5 separate regions of the Homo sapiens genome follow, and regions 1, 2, 3 and 4 are each reported to be linked to region 5. Evidence: microRNA targets listed by miRTarBase, many of them from high-throughput screens and not tested one by one. Region 5 holds a microRNA gene; each other region holds the end of a gene's coding sequence.
What was found. Region 5 holds the annotated microRNA hsa-miR-6499-3p (AGCAGUGUUUGUUUUGCCCACA, at 4,086-4,107, shown strand). A microRNA usually pairs through its seed, bases 2 to 8, with sites in the 3' UTR of a target mRNA and lowers its output. Matches are read on the target gene's strand: a 7mer-m8 pairs with bases 2 to 8, a 7mer-A1 pairs with bases 2 to 7 and ends in A, and an 8mer does both.

Region 1: the mRNA of NUGGC is a reported target of hsa-miR-6499-3p. Seed matches in the 3' UTR shown: 7mer-A1 at 868-874, 7mer-A1 at 1,036-1,042 and 7mer-A1 at 1,833-1,839.
Region 2: miRTarBase lists TTLL1 as a target of hsa-miR-6499-3p. The part of its 3' UTR that is shown has no 7-base or 8-base seed match.
Region 3: miRTarBase lists C11orf54 as a target of hsa-miR-6499-3p. Seed matches in the 3' UTR shown: 7mer-m8 at 2,404-2,410 and 7mer-A1 at 1,999-2,005.
Region 4: miRTarBase lists TSPAN14 as a target of hsa-miR-6499-3p. Seed matches in the 3' UTR shown: 7mer-A1 at 3,626-3,632, 8mer at 1,845-1,852 and 7mer-A1 at 796-802.

The regions. Positions count from the first base shown.
Region 1 is chr8:28,018,100-28,024,049 of GRCh38, reverse strand. It overlaps NUGGC (nuclear GTPase, germinal center associated), which reads left to right. Exons shown (of 19, transcript NM_001010906.2): 19 at 588-2,086. The coding sequence ends at 733. Among named protein-coding and RNA genes, the nearest start is that of SCARA5, 28 kb to the right of the region's middle.
Region 2 is chr22:43,034,596-43,040,375 of GRCh38, forward strand. TTLL1 (TTL family tubulin polyglutamylase complex subunit L1) reads right to left here. Exons shown (of 11, transcript NM_012263.5): 11 at 4,921-5,310. The coding sequence ends at 5,181. TTLL1-AS1 (TTLL1 antisense RNA 1) reads left to right here and starts at 3,990. Exons shown (of 3, transcript NR_125362.1): 1 at 3,990-5,669.
Region 3 is chr11:93,760,789-93,766,738 of GRCh38, reverse strand. C11orf54 (chromosome 11 open reading frame 54) reads right to left here. Exons shown (of 9, transcript NM_001286069.2): 9 at 1,990-5,224. The coding sequence ends at 5,051. Among named protein-coding and RNA genes, the nearest start is that of MED17, 21 kb to the left of the region's middle.
Region 4 is chr10:80,516,735-80,522,684 of GRCh38, reverse strand. TSPAN14 (tetraspanin 14) reads right to left here. Exons shown (of 9, transcript NM_030927.4): 9 at 54-4,780. The coding sequence ends at 4,709. Among named protein-coding and RNA genes, the nearest start is that of TSPAN14-AS1, 16 kb to the left of the region's middle.
Region 5 is chr5:151,520,245-151,526,194 of GRCh38, reverse strand. MIR6499 (microRNA 6499) reads left to right here and starts at 4,047; the gene lies at 4,047-4,108. FAT2 (FAT atypical cadherin 2) reads left to right here. Exons shown (of 24, transcript NM_001447.3): 18 at 230-427; 19 at 4,109-4,919. It also overlaps a transcript of SLC36A1 not described here. RefSeq lists enhancers at 4,042-4,211, 5,897-5,950.

The sequences.
Region 1 (5,950 bases), not on the chromosome of region 5:
CTCCATGTCAAAGGCCCAAGGCTGTCACTGGAGCATCCCTGTTAAATGTGAATCTCATCCAAAAACACCCTCCCAGAGGCATCCAGACTCACGTTTAATCCGGTTTCTGGGCCCTGTGACCTAAACAAGTTGACACATAAAACTAACCATTGTGAGAACATGGTTTGATTACAGATCATGGGATTAAAACCTGAGATGCCAGAAAGAGAACATTCACTGAGAATGGGTTGTGCTGGGAGGATAGGGATTGGGGTGGGGGGAAGAGGGGGAGCCGCCTGGAGAGGAATTAGAGGAGGTGTTATTGTGCAACATGCTTTGTATATCACACACCTGTGAAGCCTTAATACAGACCCAGTGACTTCTCAGGGTTTTTCTTATGGGTAGGTTTGGGTTTCTTTTGAGGGTGACCCCATGCTGAGAAAGCTTTCTGGTAAGAGGAGGAACACCTGCTTTGATGTCTGATCTGTAAGCACCACTCCAGATCTCATATTCTGGGACAAGTGACAGGATTGTTGGGGGATTTGCTTTCTGGAGACGTTTCTGCAACGGACACCAAGTCCTGATGTGAGCTTTCTGCTCTCCTGTAGATGTCGGGAGTGAATACAAGGAGATGGAGAAGCTGCACAGAAGCCTGAGGGAGGTCGCGGAGAATGCACGGCTGAGGAAGGGCATGCAAGAATTCCTCCTAAGGGCATCCCCCAGCAAGGCTGGCCCCCCCGGGACATCACTGTAACTCCTGGGGCTTAGTCCCAATGGATGAAAAATCAGCCCAGAGCCAGAGAATTAGAATTACTTTTTTTGTTCTTAAGAGACAAGATCTATCTACCTCTGTTGCCCAGGCTGGAGTGCAGTGGCACCATCACAGCTCACTGCAGCCTCGAACTCCTAGGCTCAAGCGATCCTCCAGCCTCAGCCTCCAGAGCAGCTGGGGCTACAGGTACAGGCCACCACACCTGGGTAATTTTTTTTTTTTTTTTTTTGAGACAGAGTCTCGCTGTGTCACCCAGGCTGGAATGCAGTGGTGCAATCTCGGCTCACTGCAACCTCCACCTCCTGGGTTCAAGAAATTCTCTGCCTCAGCCTCCCAAGTAGCTGGGATTATAGGCGACTGCCACCACACCCGGTTAATTTTTATATTTTTAGTAGAGACGGGGTTTCATCATCTTGGCCAGGCTGGTCCTGAACTCCTGACCTCGTGATCCACCCATCTCTGCCTCCCAAAGTGCTGGGATTACGGGCATGAGCCACCGTGCCCGGCCCATACCTGGGTAATTTTTTAATTTTTTGTGGAGATGGCATCTTGCTCTGTTGCCCAGGGTGGTCTCAAACTCCTGGCCTCAAGTGATTCTCTCCCACCTCAGTCTCTTGTGCTAGGATTGCAGGCATGAGCCATTGTGCCTGGCTCAGAATTCTTTCTGTTTTGTGAAATCTAATAGAGGACATTTCTCAACTATTTGGACTTTGCATGCAATATAAAACTAGTATGTTTACTGCATTTTATTTTATAGCCCCAAAGAGTCATCTTCAATACCTAATGGAGTTCTAAAGCTTTAGGGCAAGAAACTTTTGCTTCCGCAAAAACATCTAAACATCGCTGGGCATGGTGGCTCACTCCCGTAATCCCAGCACTTTGGGAGGCTGAGGCGGGCGGATCATGAGGTCAGGAGATTGAGACCATCCTGGCTAACACAGTGAAACCCCATCTCTACTAAAAATACAAAAAATTAGCCAGGCGTGGTAGCATGTGCCTATAGTCCCAGCTACTTGGGAGGCTGAGGCAGGAGAATCGCTTGAACCCAGGAGGCATAGGTTGCAGTGAGCCAAGGTCGCGCCACTGCACTCCAGCCTGGACGACGGAGTGAGACTATGTCTCAAAAAAAAAAAAAAAAAAAGAAAAAGAAAAAAATATATATATATACACACACACACCCATACATAAAAAAACTTAAACATTATAGAAAAAACATTGCACGATATAAAACAAGCCATAAAAAGAAATTCATCCTTCAATAAAGAAAAATATCTAAACGTTGAAAAACTTAAGTATTATGGAAAACATTGCAAAATAAAGCTTTTAGGAATCCAATTCTGTTTTTTATTTTAGTACTGATGAGACTTTGGGTAAGGAGGCAACATCGTATCCTGGAAACAAAATGGGTTTGGGAGCCAGATGAACATAGACCCGGCTTCATCACTTCTCAGATGTGTTATCTAAGGCCAGCACTTCCTAAACATTTTGATCTCAGGACTCTTCACTTTTAAAGGACGCTGAGGAGCCTTTGTTTATGTGGGTTATGTCTGATGATATTGACTATTCGAAATTAAATAGGAGAAAATGTAAGTAATTATTTACTAACTTTTTTAGAAGTAACAATAATAAACCCATTACGTGTTAACAAAAATAACCCATTGTTATGTAAAAAGCTATTTAAAAAAAAGGTACTGAGAAGAGTAACATTGTTTTACACTTTTGCAAATCTCTTTATTCCCTGGCTTAATAGAACACAGCTGGATTCTCATATCAGTTTCTTCATCTACTCTGTTGCAATATATTGTTTTGGTTGATGTATATGAAAAAAATTCAGTCTCACACAGATATACAGTTGGAATACAAGGAAGTATTTTAATAGCTTTTTCAGGTAATTTTGGGATATATTTTGATTCTACAAAGGCAGATGGCAGTTTCTTAAAAGTTAATTGTGGTGTGGATCTGAAAGCATTATCAGTGAACATTTTTCAAATGCTATTACATTAAAGTGCACTGGTTGATTTTGTACTTTGAATGATTTTTTTTACTAATGCATGATTTTGTGATATCAGGCATTGCTCATCTTGAAAATATTTATTCGCTGAGTTAAGCAAATATTCCAAGTGTTGATGCATTTTATTGTATACTACCATGAAATCATTTTGTTAGTGTCTTCACCAATCTCATCAGGAAAGTATTGCAGTATTGGGAAGCTGTCAAGCTCACAGTGAAAAATATGTTTTACAAAATTCCATCTCCCCCCCAAAAGCTCATCTTATCATTGATGACAAATGTTGTCAGTTGCTTTCTTTGAAGTGATAGATTCACTTTCCTCATTTTTAGGAAAGTGTTTACTATATAACTGTATATGATGAACTATAGTTTGTCAGTCATTATTTCAAATAAAAATGATGTTCCAAGAAAAAAGTGTCAAGTTCAGCCTGAAACTCAGACACTCAAGGAAATGCTTTTCTTTGCAGAAGTGCTTTAAGTGTATTTCCCATTTTGTCCCACAGAATAATAAAATGACATCTACATAGATGTCCATAATTAATACAATTAATAACATACTGTTTCATTTAGAACATTTTAAAGTCCAACTGGCTTTTTAAAAGCCCTGAAAGTTCATGACGGTGAAAAATACAAGAGTTTTGAATGTAGTTTGGTGCCACTGCTTTGGTTCATGCCAAGGTGCAAGTTGTTTTACCCATCTTTGCTTTTACACCTTTAGTACAAGTGTGAACATGGTAGAAAAGGAAAATAACATCTTAGTATTATTATAAAAACAGTTTAACCCAGCAGACCCCACAGAAGAGTTTCAGGGACCATATTTGAGAACAGCTGTCTTAGACAAATCATTTAAACCCCCTGAGCTTCAGGTAATTTATCTGTAAAATGGTGACAATGGTAGTACCTACCCTGATACTGCTAGGGTTGTCAGGAAGTTTAGGATAATGCTTACAAAATATGGACACATTGTACTTAATAGTACTTGATAAATGGTCACTATTGTTTATGGGCAGAATGGAAATAACATGGTTCAGTGGCTTGTCTGTTGGGAAACTTGGGTTCTGATCCCAGCTCTGACCAATACTAATATGACAATTCCTTAACACCTCTGAGATTTTATTTCCTCATATACAAAAGGAAAGAGAGGAACTGGATGATTAAAACATCTTTTGCTCCTTTGAAATTCTAGGATTTTAAATTCTTTTCTTTTTGTTATAATACCTTTTGCCTAAGTAGGAGAAAAAGGGATTTAGCCATGTGGTTATGTCTCAGTGGTTCATTTTCACATTAAACTTCTAAACACATAGCGTTCTATTGCAGTTTGTATAGTTCACTTTTCATATTTCACGAGAGGGATGTAGAGGACTTCCACCTCCAGCCATGGTGGAGTAACAGGACCAGATTTACCCTCTGGTTAAACAACAACAACAACAACAAACAAACAAAAATTATGAAACAGCAATTTTTAGATATGGGAAAATAGTGCAACACAGTCACCCCTGAAAGAAGGGAGGGAGATAAGGTGAGGCCTACAATGCTTTATCTTATGACTTGGTTGAGTTTCCAGACCACAGCACAGGAAAGGGAAGCCCCAAAGGAACTGAGTGTTCTCCCTGAGTTGAGGGGACAGAGATCAGAGTTTGAAGAGTCCAAGGTGATTAGAATTCACAGGGAAGATTACCATGGAGAAGAGAGCAGGACAGAGAGCTCCAGAGATGTGAAGTGGGTCTCCTTTGATTCTTTATCTGAGTACTGATAAGCATATGCCTGTGAGGAAACTACCAAAAATGAGGAAAGAACCCCTGGAATGAAGCCAGCAGAAAAGTCCGCAAAGCTCAGTTCAAGCTAGGTTAGCCATAGTGGAAGACCTTACACCTGAAGCATCGAGTAGACTGATCAGAAGAATATTGCCTTAGTAGTGGGGTCAAAATAGTCCTCAGTGAAAGGCTGTTAGGCATCCACCTAATAAAGGTTTTAAAAAAACTTCAGAAGAATCATACTGTTTCCAAGTAACTTAACTGCATCCCAGAAGAAAACATGAAAACATTTAGGCATAAAAAATTCCAGCGCTCAACAATGGAAAATTGACAATGTATGGCATCAAAACAAAAACTTCCAGGCATATGAAGAAGCAGGAAAATATGAACAATAATGAGAAAAATCAATAGAAATAGACCCAGAAATAACTCAGGTGATAGAGTTAGTAGACAAGGTTATTAAAATTGCTATAAGAAATTTACTCCAGATGCTCAAGAAGATAGAATAAAGCATAAACACAATGAGAAGAGACATGGAAGAAATTCAAGACTCAAATAGAACTTGGAGAGATTTAAAAAGTCTCAGTGTCTATATGGGATTAACAGCAGACTAGGTAGGGTAGAAGAAAGGATAAGTAAACTCAAAGACAGAGCAATAGAACTTACCCAAAATGAAACACAAGGAGGAAAAAAATGAACAGTGCATCAATAAAACATCGAGCACCCTAAAATATACATTACTAGAACCACAGAAGAACAGTAAAGATGTGGGGATATAGGAAAAAATATTTAAGAGAATAATGTCTGAGGTTTTTCCAAACTTGATAAAAATTATAAACCCACAGATCCAAAATGCTCAATGACTCTGAAGCAAAAGAAAAATAAGAAAAAATACACCAAAACACATCATAATCAAATTGCTGAAAACCAGTGATGAAAAGAAAATCTTAAAACCAGCTGGGTGTGTTAGGGGTGAAGGGGAGGCTGCAAAGGCAGTGGTGGATAATACATCCAAAGGAATAAAAACAATGACAGCAGACTTGTAAGCAGATGACAAGTGGATAATACATCCAAACGAATAAAAACAATGACAGCAGAAACGATGTAAGCCAAAAGTCCGTGGAGCAACCTTTTTAAAAATTGAAGGAAAAAAATGTTCATCTAGCAAAAAACATTTTCCAAAAATGAAGTGAAATAGACTTTTCAGACATACCAAAGCAAGTACCAAAATTAGTAAATATGTGGGCAAATATAAAATACTTTTTCTTATTTTTCTCAAATCTATTTAAAAGGTAGTTTAAAACAAAACCAATAACAATACATTGTGGAGTTTATAGCATGTAGAATTTAAATGTATGACAAAAGCACAAAGGGCAGGAAGGGAGAAATGGAAGCATGTTGTTGCAAGATTTTTATACAATATACACAGTTATAT
Region 2 (5,780 bases), not on the chromosome of region 5:
TACTCGGGAGGCTGAGGCAGGAGAATGGCATGAACCTGGGAGGCGGAGCTTGCAGTGAGCTGAGCTCACGCCACTGCACTCCAGCCTGGGTGTCAGAGTGAGACTCCGTCTCAAAACAAAACAAAACAAAACTAGCCGGGCATGGTGGCGCATGCCTGTAATCCCAGCTACTTCTTGGGAGGTTGAGGCATGAGAATGACTTGAACCCAGGAGGCAAAGGTTGCTGTGAGCCGAGATTGTGCCACTAGCCTGGGCAACAGAGTGAGACTCTGTCTAAAAAAAAAAAAAAAAAAAAAAAAAAAGGAAAGAAAGGGGGGAGGGGAGGGGGGAGGGGAGGGGTGGGAAGGGGAGGGGAGATTAGGTGAGTTAAACTGGAATTGTGGGGGAATGTTGGCCAAGTGGCAGGCAGGGTGGGCCTGGGCCTGAGGGAACGCCATGGGCCCCTAGACTTGTTCCTGCTGACAGAGCGCCAGCGGCCGGGCAGGAGCATAAGCAAGGTGGGTTTGCATCTGTCACTGGAGGAGCGCTCCGAATGCTTCTCAGGACAAAAGCAGGAGGCCGCCATTGTTCACAGGATGTGAGATCTAATATGGTTCAGGCTGGGGCAAATCAGTGAAGATCAAAATCCCTCGTCTTCCACAATGAGAGACTGGAATCAAAAGTGGATGTGCTCCCACCTGCTCACAAAGGGTCCTCACGTGCCCCAGGGCCCTCCACTGGGGCACAGTTCACATTAGGGGACACACAAACAGCCTGAGGGTGCCCAGTCGCTGAGCAGCCCCAGTCGCTGTGCCGTTACCAGCAGGCAGGGCCCTGCAGGAGACCTTGGCCTCCCCAGACCACAGGGGCTGCAGGGCTGCTGCGGGGAGAGGGCCAGGCGGCCGCAGCACAGCTGGGAATGGCTCCAGAGGGGAGGGTGGAGAGTGCGCTGGCCCCTGGGGGCACTCAGAGAGGAGCTGCGTGTGTTTGGCACTGGTGGACATGGTGTGTGGCAGTGTGAGCCAACAGGCCAATGGGTGGCAAGCATAGGAGGCTTTATGGAGCACCCTGAAGAACCACTGTGTGGAGGGGAAATGGCCCCCTGTGAGGAAAGTCCTAGCAGCTGGTGGAGCGCAACCAGATGCGGGTCCAGACTGATGGGGTCTCCATGGCAGCCCAGGTGGGAGGCGGAGGAGGAGAAGGGAGACAGTGAGAAGGTTGTCACCAGGCCCTCACTAATACCCGGGGAGCAGCCCGTGTGCAAAGGAGGTGAAGGATGGTGGTTTTCTTTTGTTTGAGATGGAGTCTTGCTCAGTTGTCCAGGCTGGAGTGCAATGGTGCGATCTCGGCTCACTGCAACCTCCGCCTCCTGGGTTCAAGTGATTCTTCCGCCTCAGCCTCCCAAGTAGGTGGGATTACAGGCATGAACCACCAAGCCCAGCTAATGTTTGTATTTTTAGTAGAGACGGGGTTTCACCTTGTTGGCCAGGCTGGTCTCAAACTCCTGACCTCAGGTGATCCACCCACCTCAGCCTCCCAAAGTGCTGGGACTACAGGCGTGAGCTACTGTGCCCAGTCGAGGATGGGTTTATATTGGGAAAACCAAGCCTATCAAACTTGGTGAAAACGACCACAGGATGCAACCCTCTGGCCTGGGACCCACCCCATCAAGTGTGTGGGGGCTGACAAGAAAACAGCAACGGCTCCCGGACAGCTCCCAGCAGGGCTCACTGCTTAGCCCCAGCCTAGCGCTGAATGGGGCTGTTCCTGGCCCGACAGCCTCCCGAGGCCTGCTGCCAACACCGCACCCTTCCCACCCGTGTCCTGGAAGTGCTCAGAGGAAACATCTGCCCAGAACATGACATCACTAAATCATTAATGAGACAGTCACTATATGACATAAATCCACTTAGCAGAGCCTCACTCTCACCTAGCAACTGGGTCACCAGCAAACTAACCACTTGGTGTGACTCTTCCATTAGGACTGCGTGGCCCCGGAGCCTCAGAGGCCAACGTTCCCAACCAGGGACTCCACCCTTCTCCCAGAGGGAGGCAAAAACAACACAATGTAACTGAGAACCGGGTTGTAAAAACCGGTGGAAGAGCTGGGAACAGTTAACGGGGTGTCTTTCACTTCTGCGTGTAGGAGCCGAGGTGGAGCCGCCAGCTGTGCAGAGGACACCCCCTCCTGGGAGGTAAGAGGGCTCGCCAGAGCCAGCAAGGCGTGCGGGCAGGGTCCCTGTGCGGTGGTACTGGTTGTTTCTGAGGCAAACAGAACTCCCCCCCTTTTTTTTTTTGAGACGGAGTTTCGCTCTTATTGCCCAGGCTTGAGTGTAATGGCGCCATCTCGGCTCTCCGCAACCTCCGCCTCCTGGGTTCAAGCGATTCTCCTGCCTCAGCCTCCAGGCTAATTTTTGTATTTTTAGTAGAGATGAGGTTTCACCATGTTGGCCAAGCTGGTCTCGAACTCCTGACCTCAGATGATCCACCCTCCTCGGCCTCCCAAAGTGCTGGGATTACAGGCATGAGCCACTGCGCCCGGCCACAGAACTCCCCATTTTATACAGTGGGAAACAAAGGTGCAACGACCCCAGGGACAGGCTTGGGAAACAGCTAATAAACAGCAGAGCCAGGCCACAAGGCCAAGTCTGACTCGGGGATCTCCATCCCACACCCGCCATCAACAGCAAACACATTAAAACTAAACCCCACGGCTGGGCGCAGTGGCTCACACCTGTATTCCCAGCACTCTGGAAGGCTGAGGCAGGCGGATCACCTAAGGCTGGGAGTTTGAGACCAGCCTAGCCAACATGGTGAAGCCCCATCTCTACTAAAAATACAAAAATTAGCCGGGCATGGTGGTGTACACCTGTAATCCCAGCTACTTGGGAAGCTGAGGCACGAGAATCACTTCAACCCGGGAGGCAGAGATTGCAGTGAGCTGAGGTTGCGCCACTGCACTCCAGCCTGCTGGGCGACAGAGCGAGACTCTGTCTCAAAAACAAAACAAAACAAAACAAAACTTAAACACCAGGGAACACACACAACACACATACCAATAAGATCACGAAGAAGGAATGGCTGAAAAGCCCACCAATTGTAGTTTATTTGGAGTCCAGCCAAGTACCATTTGTGTTGAAAAGACCTATTTTTCCCTAATTGGCAGTGAAACATCATTAAATATATGTACTCATATACACACACACAATATGGCATGTACACTTGACACACGTCCATGCATGGGCACTGAGAGAGCCTGGGCAAGTCAGTTAAGACCCTTATCTGAAGGACATACCCTTGGTGCCATTTGGGAGAACAAACTCCTGTTACTAGCATTGCAACAAAAACAGGTGGCAAGCTTTAAAGATAAACTCAAGACAGCGAGTGAAACTTCAGCAAATACGTGTTAATACGACCATGAGTAAAAGGCCCTTCCTGGCCGGGCGCAGTGGCTCACGCCTGTAATTTCAGCACTTTGGGAGGCGGAGGCGGGAGGATCACCTGAGGTCAGGAGTTCGAGACCAGCCTGGCCAACATGGTGAAACCCCGTCTCCACTAAAAATACAAAAATTAGTTGGGCGTGGTGGCAGGCGCCTGTAAGCCCACCTCTTTGGGAGGCTGAGCCATGAGAATCGCCTGAACCCAGGAGGTGGAGGTTGCAGTGAGCCTAGATTGTGCCATTGCACTCCAGCCTGGGTGTCAAGAGTGAAACTCCACCTCAAAAAAAAAAAAAAAAAAAAAGACCCTTCCTAAGAACAGCACTGTAACTCATGAGTTATTACTCAAATGCATCTGTCCATCTACCCACCAACTCAGGTCCTCTCCATACACTCCTGTAAGTCACCGGGCTACCGGGAGACTGCATGGGAACAACCACGCTCGCGCAGCCTGTCCCGCAGCCATCGCTCCTCCCACAGCTCCTGGCTGCCCACGGCGCTTCCCTGTAGCAAACCCAGCTGCTGACGTCATAAAAGGCACACAGCCGGACCTGTCTGTGCTCATCTAGTTCCATTTACAACAGACTCATCCACAAAACCGAAGTGGTAGAAACAGGTCTTTTTGAAGCCAGGCGTGGTGGCTCATGCCTGTAATCCCAACACTTTGGGAAGCTTAGGCAGGAGTATCGCTTGAGCCCAGGAGTTCGAGAACAGCCTGGCCAACATGGTGAAACTCTGTCTCTACAAAAAAAACTTTAAAAAGTAGCTGGGGGTGGTGGTGTGTGCCTGTGTGGTCCCAGTTACTCGGGAGGCTGAGGTGAGCGGATCACTTGAGCCCAGGAAGTTGAGCCACAATGGCACCACGGCACTCCAGCCTGGGTGACAGGGCGAGATCCTGTCTGAAAAGAAAAAAAAAAAGAAAAGAGAAGAAAAGAAAAGAAAACAGGTCTTCCTGGGAGCACCTAGACAAAGGCCTTTGTAAAGATAAATTACCGAGGAATATTTCTAGTTGCCTGTTTTCTTCAAAATCACAGTCAAGTAAGCTGGGCGTGGTGGCTCACCTCTGTAATCCCAGCATTTTGGGAGGCCGAGGTGGGCAGATCACCTGAGGTCAGGAGTTTGAGACCAGCCTGCCCAACATGGTCAAAACCCCATCTCTACTAAAAATACAAAAATTAGCCAGGTGTGGTGGCACACGCCTGTAATCCCAGCTACTTGGGAGCCTGAGGTGGGAGAAATACTACCCAGGAGGCAGAGGTTGCAGTGAGCCAAGATTGTGCCAGTGCACTCCAGCCTGGGCGACAGAGCAAAACTCTGTCTCGGGAAAAAAAAAAAAAATCGCAGTCAAGTAAAAAGAAACGCAACTAAAAGAGCCGTCAGTTAAATACATTCCTCTCTCGTGGCAGGACGAGTCTATAAGATTTGTTTTGTTTTTAATTTAGTGTAAAGTTTTTTTAATGTTTAAACCTTGTGACACATCAAATTACATGCTTGAAGCTGTTACTTTCTGTCAAAAAAGTGAGTTTTTAATATGAAAATTCTGCTTAGGTTAAAAATTAAAAAAAAAAGAGCGAGTTTTATACATCCGCATGAATTGTTTCCTTTAGCACTAGTCAAACAGACTCCATAACCTTCCAAAGAAGTGCCTTCGTTTATTTACAGGGCTTAGGAAAGGAAAAAAGCTCTACAAAAGGGAAATTTCAAAATAGGGCTTCAGCAGGGGCCCAGGTGGAGTGAGTAGTTTTGATAAGGTCCAGGTGGGACTCACTTCCAGGTGGTGAGGACCGCTCTCCCCGAGTCTCTCGATCGGCCTGCTCTGGGCCCCAGAGACTGACCCTGACGGCTTCTCAGCTCCCGGTCAGCCCCGTCACCCTGGGCCAATTCTTCATCATACCTGGAGACAGAAACAGCCAGGATCACGGCAGGCTCTCTTTCAAAGGCAACAGGCAGGGCCACCAGGCTGCTGTGTGGCAAATATGACATCACCCAGAGAAGCGGCCTGAGGGGGCCCCACCCTCGCGACTCCTGCTGGCTCCCGCCCACCTCCCACCTGGCTCCAGCCCACCTGCCTGCCAGGTGGCTCTCGCAGCCCAGCAAATGCTCCCCAAGGCCAGCCTGCCTATGTGTACAACCTTGTTGTTATTGTGGACAGTGGTCTCCCCTCGGAAGCTGACATTTTATACAGGTCACCAGGTCAAATATGGCAATGACTCCAAAGGCAACATGCATGAGGTGACACAGAACCAGCCCAGGGTAAGTGAGGTGAGACTGCCTGGCTGGAAACGCTTCACACAAGGCACCTGCAGGCTGGGGGGACTAACTCCATTCCAGATGGGAGTGGTACATGAGCACTGGTCAGTGGAG
Region 3 (5,950 bases), not on the chromosome of region 5:
CCTTACCAAACCTGATTTACAATCCAAACCACTATAGCTCTGATTGGACAAAGGACCAGCCTTACAAAAATTCTTTCCTGATAAGCAACCGAAGACCTCGAGCCAGTGTCAGCCAGTTTATAGAGACTGCATGCAAACTTTGTGTCCAATAGTTCACCTTTTGACATGAAGGGCCAAGTTCCACCTTATTTTAATGTTAAAACCTTACCCCAAAGTGAACGTGGGATTTGTGTTACATATGTTTATCCATTGCACGTGTGTTCAACTTCCCTCATAGATATGTATAACTTTTCTCCCAAAACTGCTGAATATGTTTTACTCTATTGTGTGATACAGGCCCTGTGAGGCATAAAAACCAATCTGCCCTTTTCCCTCTGGGAAGAGAGCACTTTTGGCATAAGCTGGAGACTGTCTCTTCCCGCTGTGCAAACTGAAATCACCAATATAGCTCTCCTTTCTACTATTTAGCCATCCTGGTGGTCTTTTGGATGACATATTCTTCTTCTTTAAAGGAACATGGTCTGACTCTGTTGCCAAGGATGGGCTGAGGTGGTGCCATCTGGATTCACTATAGCTTCAGCCTCCAGGTCTCAAGTGATCCTCCTGCCTCAGCCTCCCAAGTAGCTGGGACTACAGGTATGTGCCACCATGCCCAGCTAATTTTTTAGTTTTTGTAGAGATGGGGTCTCACTATGTTGCCCAGGCTGGTCTCAAACTCCTGGGCTCAAGCAATCCTCCCACCTCAGCCTTCCAAAATGCTGGGATTACAGGCATGAGCCATTGCACCTGGTTGGATGACAATTCTTTAGGTTTATCTGTGTTCTTATTTTAGGTTTGGAAAGATGGTATGACACTGTGATGTATAATAAGATATGCAGTATGTATAGATAGTCTTAGTCCCAGTATTCTGGCACACAGCTCCTAAAACCCTGGGAATCTCCAAAGTGATAAATGGTTTTTTGTATGCTAATGAAATGACAGTGATAAGTGGGTTTCTGCATGCCAGAAGCTCCTGGATAGCTTCAAGATAGGGGCTCCTTGCCCAGGAACTAACCACGTGATTAAAGAATTCCGGCTTTCAGCCCCAACACCAACCTTGAAGGAGAGGAAAGGCTGAAGGTTGAACTTATCACCAGTGACCAATAATTTAATCAATTCTGCCTACATAAGGAAGCCTCTATAAAATCCCAAAAGAAAGGCAGAGGCGGGTGGATCACTTGAGCCCAGGAGTTCAAGACAAGCCCGGGTAACATGATGAGACCCCGTCTCTACGAAAAATACAAAAATTGGCTGGGCGTCATGGCGCACACCTGTTAGTCCCAGTTACTCAGGAGGCGGAGAGGGGAGGATTGCGTGAGCCTGGGAGGCAGAGGTTTCAGTGAGCAGAGATCATGCCACTGCACTCCAGCCTGGGTGACAGAGTGAGAACCTGTCTCAAAAACAAAAACAAAGCCAAAGTCCAAAAGAAAAGGGTTTGGATAGCTTCCAAATTGCTGAACAGGTGGACATGCCTAGAAGGTGGGGCACCCAGAAACGGTGTGGAAGCTCTGGACTTCTGCTGGCCTTTCCATATGCATCTCTTCCATCTGGCTGTTCATCTGTATACTTTATTATATCCTTTATTAATAAACTGGAAAATATAAGTAAAGTGTTTCCCTGGGTTCAGTGATCTGCTCTAAGCAAATTAATCAAACCTGAAGAGGTAGGCATAGAGACCCCGATTTACAGTGGGTTGGTCAAAAGTACAGGTCACAACCTGAAGCTTGTGATTGGCATCGGAAGTGGGAGGCAGTCTTGGAGGATTGAACCATTAAACTGTGGGATCTGACGCTATCTCCAAGTAAATAGTGTTAGAATTGAATTAAATTATAGGACCCCCAGCTGATGTCTGCTGGAGAATTGCTTGGTGTGTGGGAAAAACCCCCATGCATCTGGTCACAGAAGCTTTCTGTGTTATACTGAGTGAATGTAAGAGTAAGAAGAGCACTTTGGGTGAGGTGCAGTGCCTCATGCCTGTAATCCCAGCAATTTGAGAGGCTGAGACGGGCAGATCACTTGAGGCCAGGAGTTCGAGAACAGCCTGGCCAACACGGCGAAACTCTGTCTCTATAAAGAAAGAAAACTAAGAAAAAATTTAAAAAGAAAAGCATTTTGATCTTTTCCCCCATCTCTATTAGATGGTGTGAATGTACCTGGTCTCCAAGCTTTTTGAATTGTGTCTATCAGCAATACAATTTTGAACTGAAATCCCTAACGTAAGAAATGTACACAAAACCACAGAAACTTAAAAGGACGAAATAAAATATATAAATAGATGTTCTAATATTCCCACACCCCTTGGAAGGTCATGTGTACCTGCTGTCCATGCACCCCATTTTGGAGGACACTAATGGAAGAGTAAAGGCAGTGTTGGTATCTGTAGTGTGAAGAGGCCCAGGACTGCTTCAGATGATCTCTACACCTGGAATCTGACCTGAAATAAGCTCTGATCTGAAATCAGATCTGAAATCTGTAATTAAGAATCTGACTTAATTTATGTTTGACTGCTGGTGGCTTTTAAGCCTTATCCCACCCCTCGTCCCCTTATGCCCTACACCTCTGGCAAGCTAAGAAAGCCTGGGTGCTCGCCAGACATGGTGGCCCATGCCTGTAATCCCAGCACTTTGGGAGGCCGAGGCAGGAAGATGACTTGAGCCCAGCCTGGGCAACATAGTGAGACACCATCTCTTTAAAAAAATAAAGCAAGCAAGCCTGGGTGTTTCCTTCTTTGATACCAGTGGGAAATTCAAACCACATGCAAGAAACATCACTCTGGCCCTACTCCCTAACCACCAAAAAACTCCAAGTCAGTCTCCTTCCCTGTTGTCAAATCCTGCTTAGGAGCTGCCCTGCTTTCCCCAGAAAGCTTCATTATGTGAGTAACAACCCTTTCATACTCTGTTGGTGTGTGTGTGGCTTCATCAGTCATTTTTTTTTTCTTTTTGAGACAGGGTCTCACTGTGTTGCCCAGGCTACAGTGCAATGAAACAATCATAGCTCACTGTAGCCTCCAACTTCTGGGCTCAAGTGATTCTCGTGCCTCAGCCTCCTGAGCAGCTGGGACAACAGGTGTGCACAACCATGCCCAGATAATTAAAAAATTTTTTTTCTTTTTTTGCAGAGATGGGGGTCTCTCTCTGTTGCCCAGGCTGGCCTTGAACTCCTGGCCTCAAGTGATCCTCCTGCCTTGGTCTCCCTAAGTACTAGGATTACAGGCGTGAGCCACTGAACTTGGCTATCAGTCTGGACATGTGAACCAAATTTTGAGTGTGGAATGCATCCTGTCTCAGTGCGGGATGGCCACAAAAAAATAGCATCCTCCTTTACAGTCCATCTACTCCTTTCTTTTCATAGCATTTAATACCACCTGACATATTATATATTTATTGTTTGTCTTCCCCACTAGACAGATCCCCAGCTTTAGTAAAGTGTTTGGTATAATCATCCGAGTGGCTACTTTGCTAGCAGTTAAAGGCACTAGTGCTACAGTCGTGAACAAGGCCCTTGCCCACATGAAGTGTACACTCCAGAGAGAAGGGTAGGTGTTCAATACATATTTGTTAAATGATAGACTATTAATATTATTTTGTCTGGAGGTAAGATATTACAAACATATCATAAATTAAATTTTTTATTCATTTTTTTGCATCAAAATAGTGCTTAAAATTGGAATTTATACTCACAAGACATAGCTAACATCCAAAGTAGACAATTAAAAAATATTATTTGAAAATTATGTACTTAGTACTGAAGACTTCCTAAATTTGCACATTAGCTAGATTGCCATTAGCACCATTAGAGAGTTGATCTTTGGCTAATGATTATTCAGGAAAATTTCAACCATTACAATCAGTGAGTATAATTTTATATTTCAGCAACGATAGTGGTCATGTTCAGCAACAGCTTCACTTACAAATTAAAGTAAGCTCACTTCAGTGTTGCACTCTGATGCTGTTTTTTTACCCCTTCTCTTGCAAATAACCAGTGAAATAAAAATTGCTTCTAACTGGCAATCGAAACAAGGGAGGAATTATGGCTAGCCAACTAGTTGCTAATGTTTGTGTTTTTTTTATTTAAGAAACATTTTAAATAATAGAGATGGGGTCTCACCATGGTGCCCAGGCTGGTTTAAACTCCTAGGCTCAGGCAATCCTCCCACTCGGCCTCCCAACATGCTGGGATCACAGGCTTCAGCCACCATGCCCGGACTGCTAATGTTTGTGAAAGGCAAATTGTAAACTTCTATGGTTTAACTTCACCAGAAGGGTAAAGGGCTCCCCACCTGCCACCTTGTTCTATAAAAAAAGTATACTCTGATTACTAGAATGGATTTTTAAAATTCAATTCAAAGATTCAATAACTATCAACATTTCTAAACACTGATTTTTCTTTTTCTCTTTTTCAAATGTTTTTTAATATCCTGCAGGTAATAACACTGATTTTTCTAATACTCAGAAACATCTACTTAGCAGTTGTGATACTAATTTGCAAAATGTAATAATGTTATACAAATATAAGATACTACTAAATACATAGTAGAAATAATTGCATGATTCCTGATATTTATATTCAAGGTATAAACATGACTGATTTCGCTGATACTACAGAATAAAAAAAATAAAGCTGCTATGTAAAAAATTAAAGAATATCTCAATTAGATATTTTTGTTCCCAATCTCTTTCAGACAGATCTATGAAATAATATAGAATATACTATCAATATGTTCTTTCATATGAAGTGAAAAAAATGGGATTTAAGTAGTGAGATAATTTCTATTTTTTACTTTTTTAAAAAAATAGACAGGGTCTTGCTATGTTGCCCAAGCTGGTCTCAAACTCCTGGGCTCCAGTGTGCTTCCTGCCTCAGCCTCCCAAAGTGCTGGGATTATAGGCATGAGCCATTGTGCCTGGCCTGTGGGATCATTTCTATTGGTTTTATATCAGTATTAATTAATAAGTCAATCAATTAATTAACCTTAATTATTTCTTTTTCTAAATAAGTATCAGCTGATTTAATCTCGCCCAATTGAATGCGTCTCTTTTGGTTGATCAATGCGATAGAGAAACTCTGCAGGTAAGAAGTATCCAAGATATTCCACTATATCTGGAGTAGTGTCATAATGGTAGTGTCCACCTTCTCCATGACGACTAAAAAAATGAGTGTGCTCCAGTCGCAAATCAAACCCCTAAGATAACAGACAAACAATATGTTAGTACTCAAATTATTGATTAGAGTTTAAGGGGGAGGGATAACTTTTTACGTTGCAATAGTTTTTATTTTTTAAATAGGTAATACATTCACATGTTCTAAATTCAAAGGGGGCAAAACGATGTATTCAGTAAAATGTATCTTCTTCTCTCTTGCCCTCACCACTCACTCCCCTTCCTAGCAGGTAACCAGTGTAAGCATTTTCTTGTATATCCTTCCATAAATACTTACTTTTATTTTTACTCAAATGTAGTATTTTGTACACACTTTTCTGCATGTAACTTTTTTTCATGTAACAATATAGTTTTGAGATCTTTGTATATGAAATCATAAAAGAGCTTCCTCATTCTTTTATACCTGCATGGTATTCTATTGCGTATGTAACTTCTCAACTGACACTTGCATTATTTCTAATTCTTTTGCTACTACAACAATACTGTAATAATAACCTTTTAACTAGTAATTTTACACAATTATGCATATATTTAAGTATAATATCCTAGGCATGTAATCACTGGATCAAGATATGACCAGGGTAGGCGGAGTAGCTCATGCCTGTAATCCCACCACTTTGGGAGGCTGAGGCGGGCGGATCACTTGAGGTCAGGAGCTCGAGACCAGCCTGGTCAACATGGCGAAACCCTGTCTCTACTGAAAATACAAAAATTAGCCGGGTGTGGTGGTGAGTACCGGTAATCCCAGC
Region 4 (5,950 bases), not on the chromosome of region 5:
ATTCCTAATAGTAGTTACCTCTGCGTAACAGAAGACATACTTTCACTTTTCACTTTACATTCTCTTATGTTTAGATTTTTATTTAAGTGTACTTTTTAAAAAGACTAGTTTAAAAGTTGTTTTATACAGTCCAAGGTGATAATTTATTGTAGTAGTTTTTTTTTAATTTTATTTTTTGAGATGGAGTCTCCTGTCACCCAGGCCGGAGCGCAGTGGCTCGATCTTGGCTCGTTGCAACCTCTGTCTCCCGGGTTCAAGCGATTCTCCTGCCTCAGCCTCCCGAGCAGCTGGGACTACAGGTGCACATCACCATGCCCGACTAATTTTTGTATTTTTAGTAGAAACTGGGTATCACCATGTTGTCCAGGCTGGTCTCGAACTCCTGGCCTCAAGTGATCTGCCTGTCTTAGCCTCCCAAAGTTCTGGGATTACAGGCGTGAGCCACTGCACCTGGCCAGTTCTAGTAGTTATTAAACCATGCATTGGAAGACCCTGCTGGAATATAAGATGCAGAGCACAGAAAGAAAACTAAGTGAAGAAAGAATTGTTTCGGAGCCTTGTAAGGAATACTCACGTCCTCCTTCTCCAAGCTGGGCTCCCTGAAGTTGGCAATTTCATCAAAACAGTATCCACTTAAAAGTACCCTTAACTTTTTCTTCCAAAGTTACACAGTAGCCCCAAGTTCTACAATGCCCACTTCATGTTTTCCTGAGGCACCCTGGAGACGCCAAAAGCATTTGAGAATGAACGGGCCTTTTTTTTTTTTTTTTTTTCTTTTTTGAGCCCAGGCTGGAGTGCAGTGGTGTGATCTCGGCTCACTGCAAGCTCCGCCTCCTGGGTTCACACCATTCCCCTGCCTCAGCCTCCGGAGTAGCTGGGACTACAGGCACCCGCCACCAAGCCCGGCTAATTTTTTTGTATTTTTAGTAGAGAAGGGGTTTCACCGTATTAGCCAGGATGGTGAACATGCCTTTAATGCAGCCTTGAACAGGAATTGGCCAAGCCTTGCCAACTTGATAAGGAGCAAAAAAGGCTCTAAAGGTGTATGGCTCCCCAGATTTCTGGAGGGCATCCAAATGAATGAGAACAGGGCTGCAGGTAGTCACCTGCAGCATCCTCCTGGGCACGATGACAGAGGGAAGTGTCTCTACCAAGATCCATCATGGGGGACAGGTTCCCATAGCCCCGGACACACAACCTAAAAACCGTGGTTCTGTGGACCGACACCCGTAAGACCCTAGAGCTGGAAAGGCCCACCTGTGAAGGTCATTCAGCACTCCACCACCCACCCCCTACCAGTACAGCTGAAAGCTCTGGACCAGCGGGTGACAGGCTGATGCATCTGACATTTGGGCGGAGACCTTCCCATGACAGCAGGATGCCTCAGGTGCTGGGACCACTGCTGCCTCCCTCCTTTCTCAGCAGTCGTCTATGTTCCTCTGAGACTGCTGGCTGAGAAGCCATCAGGTGGGTTCCCTGATGAGACTGACACCCTCTCTGCTCTGCTGGGAGCCTTCCAACACTGCAGCCACCTACAGTCACATGCATGCCTGCCACCTCCCCAGTGGCCTCTGCATGGAATCTCCCAGAGAAATTCCACGTTCCAGGAAGGTTGTGCATCCATTAATTTTCATTGTTATTCATGGGGAAACCCAGTGCCAGGCTTCTTGTGGACCATGCAGATGGTTTTTCAGCCCAGCCCACAGCCCTGCCCTGTGGGTAGTGGGATTCCCCGGAGGCTGGTGAGGACAGCTGCAGCAGAGTCCTAAGCAGACATATGGGAGAGGTCAGAGAACTGGCGAGCCTGGGCCTCTGAAGCAGAGAAGCAGAGGACATTCAGGAGGTGCAGTGTCTGGTGCTACAGAGGCTGAAGAAGGCCAGAGTTGACAATTGGGATAAGCAGCTTTCAGCTACGTGGGGCATGGTGGGTGGTGCAAAGGAAGGGGTACAGACAGCCCAGATAAGAAGCTGCCTGGGAAAGAAAGGGAGGGAGCCATAGGGCCTCGGCAAGTTTTTAGGATGGGAAAGGAAGGCCAGCGATAGGAAGACGGGACAGGAAAAATAACGTTGACAAGATCCTGAGAGGGGGTGGACCAGGGTTGAGGAGGGGGTACAGGAAAGACCCCAAGGCTTTAAAGTTAGCATGTGCATGGTGAGGTGAGAAGAGGGTGCAAATGCCACAGCTGGCCTCCAACCAGGGAAGGCGGGGATTCAGGACAGGCCAGTGCTAGGTGGGGAGTGCACAGGAGGCCTGCCCTGTGCCTCTGTGCGGACAGCCGATGCTGGGCGGAGACTGCCACGTGACCGGCTCTCATCCTTGCTTTCTTTCCATTCCTCATCCAACTATTCAGAGTCACATGATATGGCTGAGAACAGCCAGAAGGGTCTATAGTTGAAAGATAAACCCAACTCTGCAAAAATCGCACCGAGACTTCATCCTAAACCAGGTCTACAGGAATAGATGGGTCAGGCCTGCAGGAGCCTTCCAGGAGCTCTGGCAGGGAGGGTCTGTGGCCACCCACTCCCCCAGGGGAGGCTGGGTCAGAGGCATCTAGTGAGGTGGGCACTGCCACCAACCCCCTTCACAGAAAGGCCGGCACACCCAGGACACACAGCTCATGCAGCAGCAGTGCCCAGGCTTCAATCCCATGTCCCCACTTCGACTCAGTGTCCCCAAGCTCTTCTGCTTGGATCAATAAATAGTATCGCACAGGGGTGGACAGAAATAACCTAAAACAATGTTTCCTCTAGACCTATGGAGTTGAAGTTTCTCCAGCTCTCACTTATAGCGGGGGATAAACCACAAGCCAACTTGTGCGGCTGTGGCCGGCACACAAGGGCAACTGAAAGTGCTGCCATACAGAATCTTAAAAAAAAAAAAAATTACTCAATGAAATGTAAGTCAGATTGTGCTGATGATGGACTGCCTTTACCATCCATCCTTCTGTAAGGTCTACATACCCTATCCCTTGGTTCCTCTGGCAGCCGCGTTTACCACTGAGATGCTTAGCAATATCTCAATAGTGACCCCAAACAAAAATGACCAAAACAGCATTAATATAAAGATATATTCCATAAAAGAGTTTGGCAGTCAAAGAGAAGCATCACACTTCCGAAAAACACAAGCATTCTTCTCCTAGTCTACAGAGAATTGTGTAAAAAAAAAAAAATCATCATCAACAGCCACCAGTATACACCACACTAGAATGTACACTCCGGCAAGTAAATTAAGGTTGCAGTCCATCCCTGAACGATGAGAAGTGGTCTGAGCTATGGCAAAGTGTTAGAAAGTAGCCCAGCTAGACAAATGCCCCAGCTATCCCCAGGGGAGTTATTCAGTACTTAAGACTTCATTTCCAAGAGCAGCCCCAGAAAAGCCCTGACAGGAAGGGTGGACCAGTGATCACCGATATCCCATTAGGGGCGGTCACCAGAAACAAAATGCCTGGAGCTTCTGAGCAGCTGCAGCCTGGGGTTGTGGCTAGGCACGGGGTGTGGTTGCAGAAGAACGGCTGTCTCCGGGGAGAGGCAAATGGCAGGCCAGCCAGCCCTGGGTACATGGCCACAAGAGGAGCCCTGGCCAACAGTTTCAGGCTGGCCATCTTGGGCTGGGGCTCCCTGGGCTTGCAGTGGGGAGGGTCAGGATTCAAATTCTGGGTGACAATTTCAGTAGCACCAAGACCAGAAGACAGTGAGGCCACGCTGGGGAGTGGGGGAGTGCTTGTATGTGGGATGCATGGAGGGAGGCTGCAGTATGTGGAGGAGAAAGAGAGGCTGTTGTGGGCTGGTTCTTAAGACACTCAAGGGGACTCAAAGGGTCGGCTCCAGCCATGGACACTATCTAAGGCTGCTCAGAGGAGAATGCTGGAGGAGAGGAAGAGGAAGTGAAATGGTGTGAGAACATTCTTACCCCTATAAATAAACTATTTACACACTTTAAGAAAAGGAGAGCCGGCTCTCAGTGAAGAACCATGCCCACCGCGCCACCGGCGCCATCAGGGCTTAATGCTATCAAGACCAGAGGCAGTTCCGGCGCCAGGAGAATAGCTGGTGGACACAGGGGGACAGTGGACAAGGCACTCCCGTGGCACCAGTCCACGCACTGGCTCAGGCTTACTTCACTTGAACATGGCTGAGGATCCTGCAAACAACCCCTGATATGTGCATGTCCCAGCAGACTGCGCTGGCACTCAGAGGCCCAGCGGGGCCACGTCCGCCTCCCGTTACGGGCAGGCCCCCATGCTGCTTTGCTTGATGGAGAGAGATGCCCTGTCCACGCCTGTGGGTCCCTCTACCCACGGCCCACCCACAGATGTGGATGACCCAAAGCAGATGTCTGGATGCCAGTGGAGAGGGGACCAGGGTGTCCTGCAGACATGCTTGAGCTGCAGGGGGTCTGAGTCAAGCCCTCCTGGCAGCCACAGGAGCCCTCTCTGTCTTTCAGAGTCACCACTCCCACATAAAGACACATTCTCTGTCTCTGGGTAGACTCCAGAGGGATGCAGTCACAAGTTTGGGCAGGTAACAAGGGGGACCCTTGGTCTTCAGCACCAGCAAGCAGAAACAGAGAGGTCACGTCACGCTGATGCTTAAGATGGGGCACTGGCTCTGGGGGTGTCGGCTCCTCTCCCTCTGGACGTAGGGCTGATGGCAGAGAAAGGCTCTGGCCTCCCAGCGTGGCTCAGCTCGGCTCCCTCAACTCTGCTCCTCAGAAGTGATGGCCGGCCTTCACTGCCTCGATGTCTGAGATCAGCGTCCTTGCCAGGAAGATGCCAAATATCTGAAACCAACACCAGCAGAGTCAGCGGCCATTGCTGGGGCCCAAAGGCAGAGGGCAGGGAGCGGAGGGTGGGGTTGGGAGCTCCCACTGCACGCCTCTCCTCACCCCCCAGCTGCGACTGAAGACGTAGAGACAGCACCGCAGAGCGAGTGGCACAGCACAGCCACCCCTCCCGCAAAAAAGGGGTCCTGGGGTCTAGTCTGTTACATTCCCAAAGCCTAGAAGAGGCAAACCACAGGCACCACAAGCAAAACAGACACTCTGTCCTGCCTCCAACATGATTAAGTATGTCACAAGCCATGGGGCAGGACACGCCTGTCCCTGGGTTAAACCAAAAATAACAGGGTCACGCTGACTGGTTCTCATTCCCAAAATAATAAATCTTGAATGTTTCCTGTAAACGTCGATTCCATAATAAAACCAAGGCCATCCCCAATTTTGGCTGTGCTAATAATGTCTGAAGATCCATCCCAACCTTGGTGAGCAGGGAAATCATGAGAGGAGACTGATGTTCTTCTAACGTGAACAGATGAACACGAACTTGGTGACCTCTGGAAATGGCTTTTTTTCCCTTTAAATTCTTGTGTGGTTCTAATTTGACTAGTCAGTCCTTCTGAAGTCTGATTCTTCCCTTGCCTATTTTGCAAATAACTTTTTTCTTTCCTTTTCCAGTTGCTTCCTCCTATTTCTTAGTCTTCCTTGAAGGAGGAAGGCATGTGTGGGTGGCTGGTGGCCCTGGGTCTACCTCAGTCACCCTCTTCAAGGCAAAAACAGAGTCAAACACTTTCTAAATGGTGTTATTTTCCACACAAGAAATGCATCAGTGGACCCAGAAGCTGCGGCTTCTTGGAAGCCCTGAACAGCACTGGAAAGACTCCTGGTTTCTCTGATCACTGAATTCTTGACTTTCTCTGCCAGTTCTTCTCCTAGCAGTCACCAACCAGCCCAGTCACCCCAGGCCTCACTGCCTGCTCAGCCACCAACATCCTCCCACATGTGCAACCTGGTTCAAATGAACAAGCACAGCCTGGGAGAGGAAAGGATGCCACAAACGGCAGCAGGCCTCAGAGGATGTCTCATGGACAGGGAAGATACCTGACAACTCCAGCCCAGGGGCCAGAGACAGGAGGAGAGGTCCTGGGGCAAGTGCACACACGTGAGCCTCAGGCC
Region 5 (5,950 bases):
GTGTTTCTAAGACCCAACATTGCCCTTGGGGAGCTCCTGGTCTAGACAGCAAAGTCAACAACTACCTCAAAGGCAGGCAGAATGAATGAGCAGCAGCTTGATGTCCAGGCACCATCTACAAGCAGTCAGAGTGCTGAGGACTCATTCCAGATGACATACCCAGACACGTGCGAAAGGAAGGACCGGGACTCATTCTGCTCTTTGCCTTCTTTGTCACTCTCGGTCTCAGGAGAACTCCCCCATTGGCAGCAAAGTCCTGCAGCTGATCCTGAGTGACCCAGATTCTCCAGAGAATGGCCCCCCCTACTCGTTTCGAATCACCAAGGGGAACAACGGCTCTGCCTTCCGAGTGACCCCGGATGGATGGCTGGTGACTGCTGAGGGCCTAAGCAGGAGGGCTCAGGAATGGTATCAGCTTCAGATCCAGGTGAGAGCTGTGCTAGGCTTCTGGTGGTGACCATGGGGACAGTAAAGATGCTGGCAAAAGCCCCACCAGTGCTTCTGTCATTAGGGAAAAAATGTACAAAGCACTTAGGATGCATCAGGCACTGGGCTAGGTCCTTCTCAGGACTAAAGCCTCATAACACTCAGGGCAGGTATAGTTACCACCCCGCTTTACAGATGAGGAAACTGAGGAACACAGGGGATTTAAGTGACTGGCTTAAAGTAATACTGGTAATAAGTGGCAAAGGTGGGTTGCTTCAAACCCAAGCACTCTGACCCCAGACTCCAAATTCTTAATCCCTGCTCTGTGCCTGGGCAAAACACCCTCTGGCTGTAGCTCCTAGAGCTTAGCCAGAACAGCTCTCTGAACCTCAGGAGCTAAAACAACCTACCTCAGAGAACTGGCTTGGGGCTCAAGTGAGATATTGTATGCACATGTGTGTAGGGGATTCTGGTGGTGGTGTTATGGGTTTCATAGGAATTGCTAAAGAACAGTGGCCAAGATGGTGGTCTGATATCTCTCCCTCACTTTATTTCTCCAAATCTCTTTCCTAAATCTCAAGTCCAGTGGACCCTACTATTCTGTAAACTTATGGGCTGGGAATGATGTATTCATTCTTTCAGTCAGTCAGTCCATCTCTCGACAAGTATTTATTGAGCATCTACTACATGCGAGGCCATTTGCAAGCTGCTAGGAACATAGCAGAGGGTAAGGAGGGAATGATTCCTGTCTCCAGGGGCTTTCCATTGTAATCATGGAGATAAACAATAAACAGATAAAGAAAGAAATAACATCTTTACAAATGATGATAAGGAAGTAAAGTGATGAGAGACTCATAAGACAGGGGGACACACATTCAGAGGGAGGCTGCCCCCAGGAGGTGACATCTGAGCAGAGAGCCAAGCTGCCAACCATGTGAAAAGTGGGCAGGAGAGTCTTCCAGGCAGGAAGAGCAACATGAGTTGGGAAAGAGCCTGAAGTGGCTTGAGGTATGGCTGAGGTACTGAGAACATCATGAGCAGGGGTGGGAATGAGGCTGAGGAGATAGGCTGGGTAGATCATGTGGGCCTTGTGGCTTGGATGACTGTATTATCTGAGGTCCAAACTGTGATCTTTGAGAGTGAGAGAAGCACTGACTTAGTCCATTTGGGCTGCTACAACAGAACACCATAGGCTGGGTGGCTTAAAGGACAGAAATGTATTTCCCACAGTTCTGGAGGCTGGAAGTCCCAGATCGGGGTGCCAGCATGGCCAGGTTCTGGTGAGTGCCCTCTTCTGAATGGCAGACTGTCGGCTTCTCATTGTATCACATGGCCCTTCTCATAAGGGCCCTAATCCCATTCACAAGGGCTCCACCTCCAAATACTGTTACACTGGGGATTAGATTTTAACATATGAATTTTGAGGGGACACAAACATAGAGTCCAAAACAGGCACTAAAAATAATACTTGGTAGTAGCTGATTTACAACAGGTAAAAATCAAGACTGTCCTTGACAAACCAGGGCATCCAATCTTCTAAGTATAAGCCTTGGTAACACTTTTAGATTCTAATCTAAGTACAATGAGAGGTGGTTGGAGGGTTTCAGACGGAAAAGGGATCCTCTTTGTGTCTCAGGAAGCTCATTTTTCAAGCTCTATAGAGTGGGTGAGGGAGACCAGTGAGAAGTCATCCAAGCTGGAGATAGTGGGGCTGAGACCACGGAGTGATGGAGAAGATGCAGGAAGCGGAGAGATTTCGGACATATTTTGTATGTAAATTGATAGGAGTTGGTGGAGTGGATGTGCAGTTAGAAAGAACAGAGACGATTCAGGGGTGATTTCTAAATTGTTGGCTCCCATGAAGACTTCGGTGGTAGTGCATTTATGAGACTGGAAAGGCCCAGACGGGAAGGCAGGACAGGTTTATGGGCTAAACCGAAGCTCTGTTTTGCACATTATTTCCCAGTTGTTTGTGAGACATCCAAGCAGAGGTGTCCAGTGGGTAGCTGGGAATTGGAGTTGGCAGCTCAGAGGATTGGTAGATGGCCCTCAAAGCCAAGAGCATGGATGTGATTGCCTAGGGAGAGATGAGAGAGAATGGCTTCCTGACCTCTGTATTCTCAGACCCAGGCACACGTCCTGCCTAGACAGGAGCTTAGTAATGACTGGCATCATCACCATCAATTGCATTGGTCCCGTACTTCCACTTCCATGCACTGGGAGGCACCATAGGCCAGCAAAGAAAAACACAGGCTATAGACACAGATAGGTATTCAGATTCTGCTCAGGCCTTATCTGCTGCTGTATGACCTTGGGCAAGTTACTTCACCTCTTTGAGCCTCAGTTATATTTTTTGTAGGATGGGTGACTTGATAGTACCTATCTCATAAGAAGGATAAACTAGGATAATGTATTTACAGCATTATCATAGTTTATCTATGATAATGACTAGCATTGTACTCAGTTAATGTTAGCTATGTATTATATATAATCGGTAGTAGTAGTATTGTTGTAACTAATGTTAGCTATACATTATAATTAACAGTAGTGTTAATTATTATTGTTGCTATTAATATCTCTTCGGTGTTATGCATGACTTCCAGCAGTAGGTGTAATCTTATCAACTTTCTTGTACATTAAAAGTGTTGGAGTGCAGGTGAACAAGATATTACTACAGGGAAAATTGTGGAGACCCTCGTTGACAGCTGAGGAAGTGATAACATCACTGAGGAGAAGAAGGCAAGCCTGTCCTTTCTAAGTCAGGCAGGAAGTTGCAGGGATGTGTGGTGAAACATGAAAGGAAAATGCGTTTATGATTTACATTCTTTTCCCTACTTAAGTGAGGTCCTGTCACCCTCACGGCTTTTCACAGTTCTGACATTAACTGCAACCCTGCGCGTGCCAGCCCATCAGTGAGGTCAGGCCTGCTTCCCTGCCCACTTGCTCCAGCACCAGTGACCCCGTCTGTGCTGTTGAACACACCGCCTTCATTCCTACCCCAGGACCTTACACTTGCTGCTCCCTCTGTCTGTCGCCTCTTCTTCTCATCCCTCAGGACTCAAATGTCACTCCACAGAGACTCCTTCTCTTCTACCTGATCAAAGTTAGGTCTCTGTTTATTTCCTTCCCAGCATTTTATCCAAGTTATTTGGTAACTTATTTATTGTCTCTTTTCTCCTGGCCACAGCAGAAGACTTCGTTGACTGACTAGAAGGACAAATCCCGACTCCCACTCCAATCGCATAGCAAAAGGGAATCCCAAGGGGAATTTTCGTAGGCTGAGCAGGGTGCATGGTGCATCAGAATTGCTGAGACATCTGAGGGCGCCCTTGAGGACAGGGACAGAATGAGAAACTTCATGAGGAAGTTAGCCCAAGTCTATGGCTGGAGAGATTTAGGAAGAGGCTCAGAGAGATGTCACATGAGGAAACTGCATTGTTTTACTGCATGGTATAGGATGTAACTCCCTCCTTCAATCTCTACAAAACCTTCAGAAAATCTTTCTTTTCTGTCAGTGCTTTTGGAGTTAGGTTTTTTTTTTCTAAATGCAACAATGCGCTGAGCCAGCCCTCAAGTTGGGCGTGGGGCAGAGAAACGTAGCTCCACAAGGAGGCCCAGCCTCAGTCGGGCGCAAGAGCACTGCAGTTCTGTTGGGTGACAGCAGTGTTTGTTTTGCCCACAGGCGTCAGACAGTGGCATCCCTCCCCTCTCGTCTTTGACGTCTGTCCGTGTCCATGTCACAGAGCAGAGCCACTATGCACCTTCTGCTCTCCCACTGGAGATCTTCATCACTGTTGGAGAGGATGAGTTCCAGGGTGGCATGGTGGGTAAGATCCATGCCACAGACCGAGACCCCCAGGACACGCTGACCTATAGCCTGGCAGAAGAGGAGACCCTGGGCAGGCACTTCTCAGTGGGTGCGCCTGATGGCAAGATTATCGCCGCCCAGGGCCTGCCTCGTGGCCACTACTCGTTCAACGTCACGGTCAGCGATGGGACCTTCACCACGACTGCTGGGGTCCATGTGTACGTGTGGCATGTGGGGCAGGAGGCTCTGCAGCAGGCCATGTGGATGGGCTTCTACCAGCTCACCCCCGAGGAGCTGGTGAGTGACCACTGGCGGAACCTGCAGAGGTTCCTCAGCCATAAGCTGGACATCAAACGGGCTAACATTCACTTGGCCAGCCTCCAGCCTGCAGAGGCCGTGGCTGGTGTGGATGTGCTCCTGGTCTTTGAGGGGCATTCTGGAACCTTCTACGAGTTTCAGGAGCTAGCATCCATCATCACTCACTCAGCCAAGGAGATGGAGCATTCAGTGGGGGTTCAGATGCGGTCAGCTATGCCCATGGTGCCCTGCCAGGGGCCAACCTGCCAGGGTCAAATCTGCCATAACACAGTGCATCTGGACCCCAAGGTTGGGCCCACGTACAGCACCGCCAGGCTCAGCATCCTAACCCCGCGGCACCACCTGCAGAGGAGCTGCTCCTGCAATGGTAAGTACTACATCTTCCCTAGGGACGAGCAGCACTGCTGGGCTCAGCCCGCCTGACTCTAAGCATGGAGATTCCACTGAGGCTCTGTGGGAGAGTTCAGGGAAGTTTTAATAAGCCCAAAGGCCACCAATCACCATAAGACGGCTAGTGGCCTCACAAAATCTAGTTATGGAATAATACCCAATTCTCAGCTCCCTTTCGAGATTTAGAAAATAACAGTAAGACTACAATATGTGGTTTAACATCATGGCTAAGAGCATAGGCTGTGGCTTCAGTCTTCATGGGTTAAAATCCCAGCTCTACCCCTTACTAACCAGGCGACTTTAGGAAAATTAACCTCTCTGTGCCTTTGAGCTGGGCTGCTGTAGGAATTACATCAGTACTATGTATCAAGTGCTTGCTTAGAACAGTGCCTGACATATAGAAAGTGGTCAATACATGTGAGTTACTAATACTGCTACTATTATTACCATAGTCTGGTGGTTATAAGCTCAAGGCTTAGACTCAGACAGCTCAGGTTCAAACCCTAGCTCCATCAGTCACTAGCTGTGTAACTTTGGGTGTATTGTTAAAACCCTCTGAGCTTTTTAGTTTCCCATCTATAAAATAGTCAAAATAAATACATCTGCCTCCTGGAGTTGGGTTCGGGGGGGAAATTACGTAAGAGTTATAAAAGCACTTAACCCATGGCTGGCCCACAATAAGCCCCAGATCAACGGTGACTGTCATTCCCGTGGTAGCAGTTGCTATAGGGAGCCTGCTGTACGCCACACTCTGTGTAGATGTCACCTAAACTAATCGGCACCACAGCCCTACCAAGCAGGGTCATTAGCCCCATCTGCAGTTGGAACTGAGATATGAGATTTAGTTTGCCTGAAATTGTACAGCTTCCAATGAAGGCCTCGTTATTCAAATATCTGTGTGTCCCACTCTAAAGCCTGAACTCTTCACTAAGCTCCTCAGGCACTCCAAGACTCACCCAGCATCCCTGGCATTAAGGCCAAGGGAGCAGCTCAGGAGCCTTGGCTAAA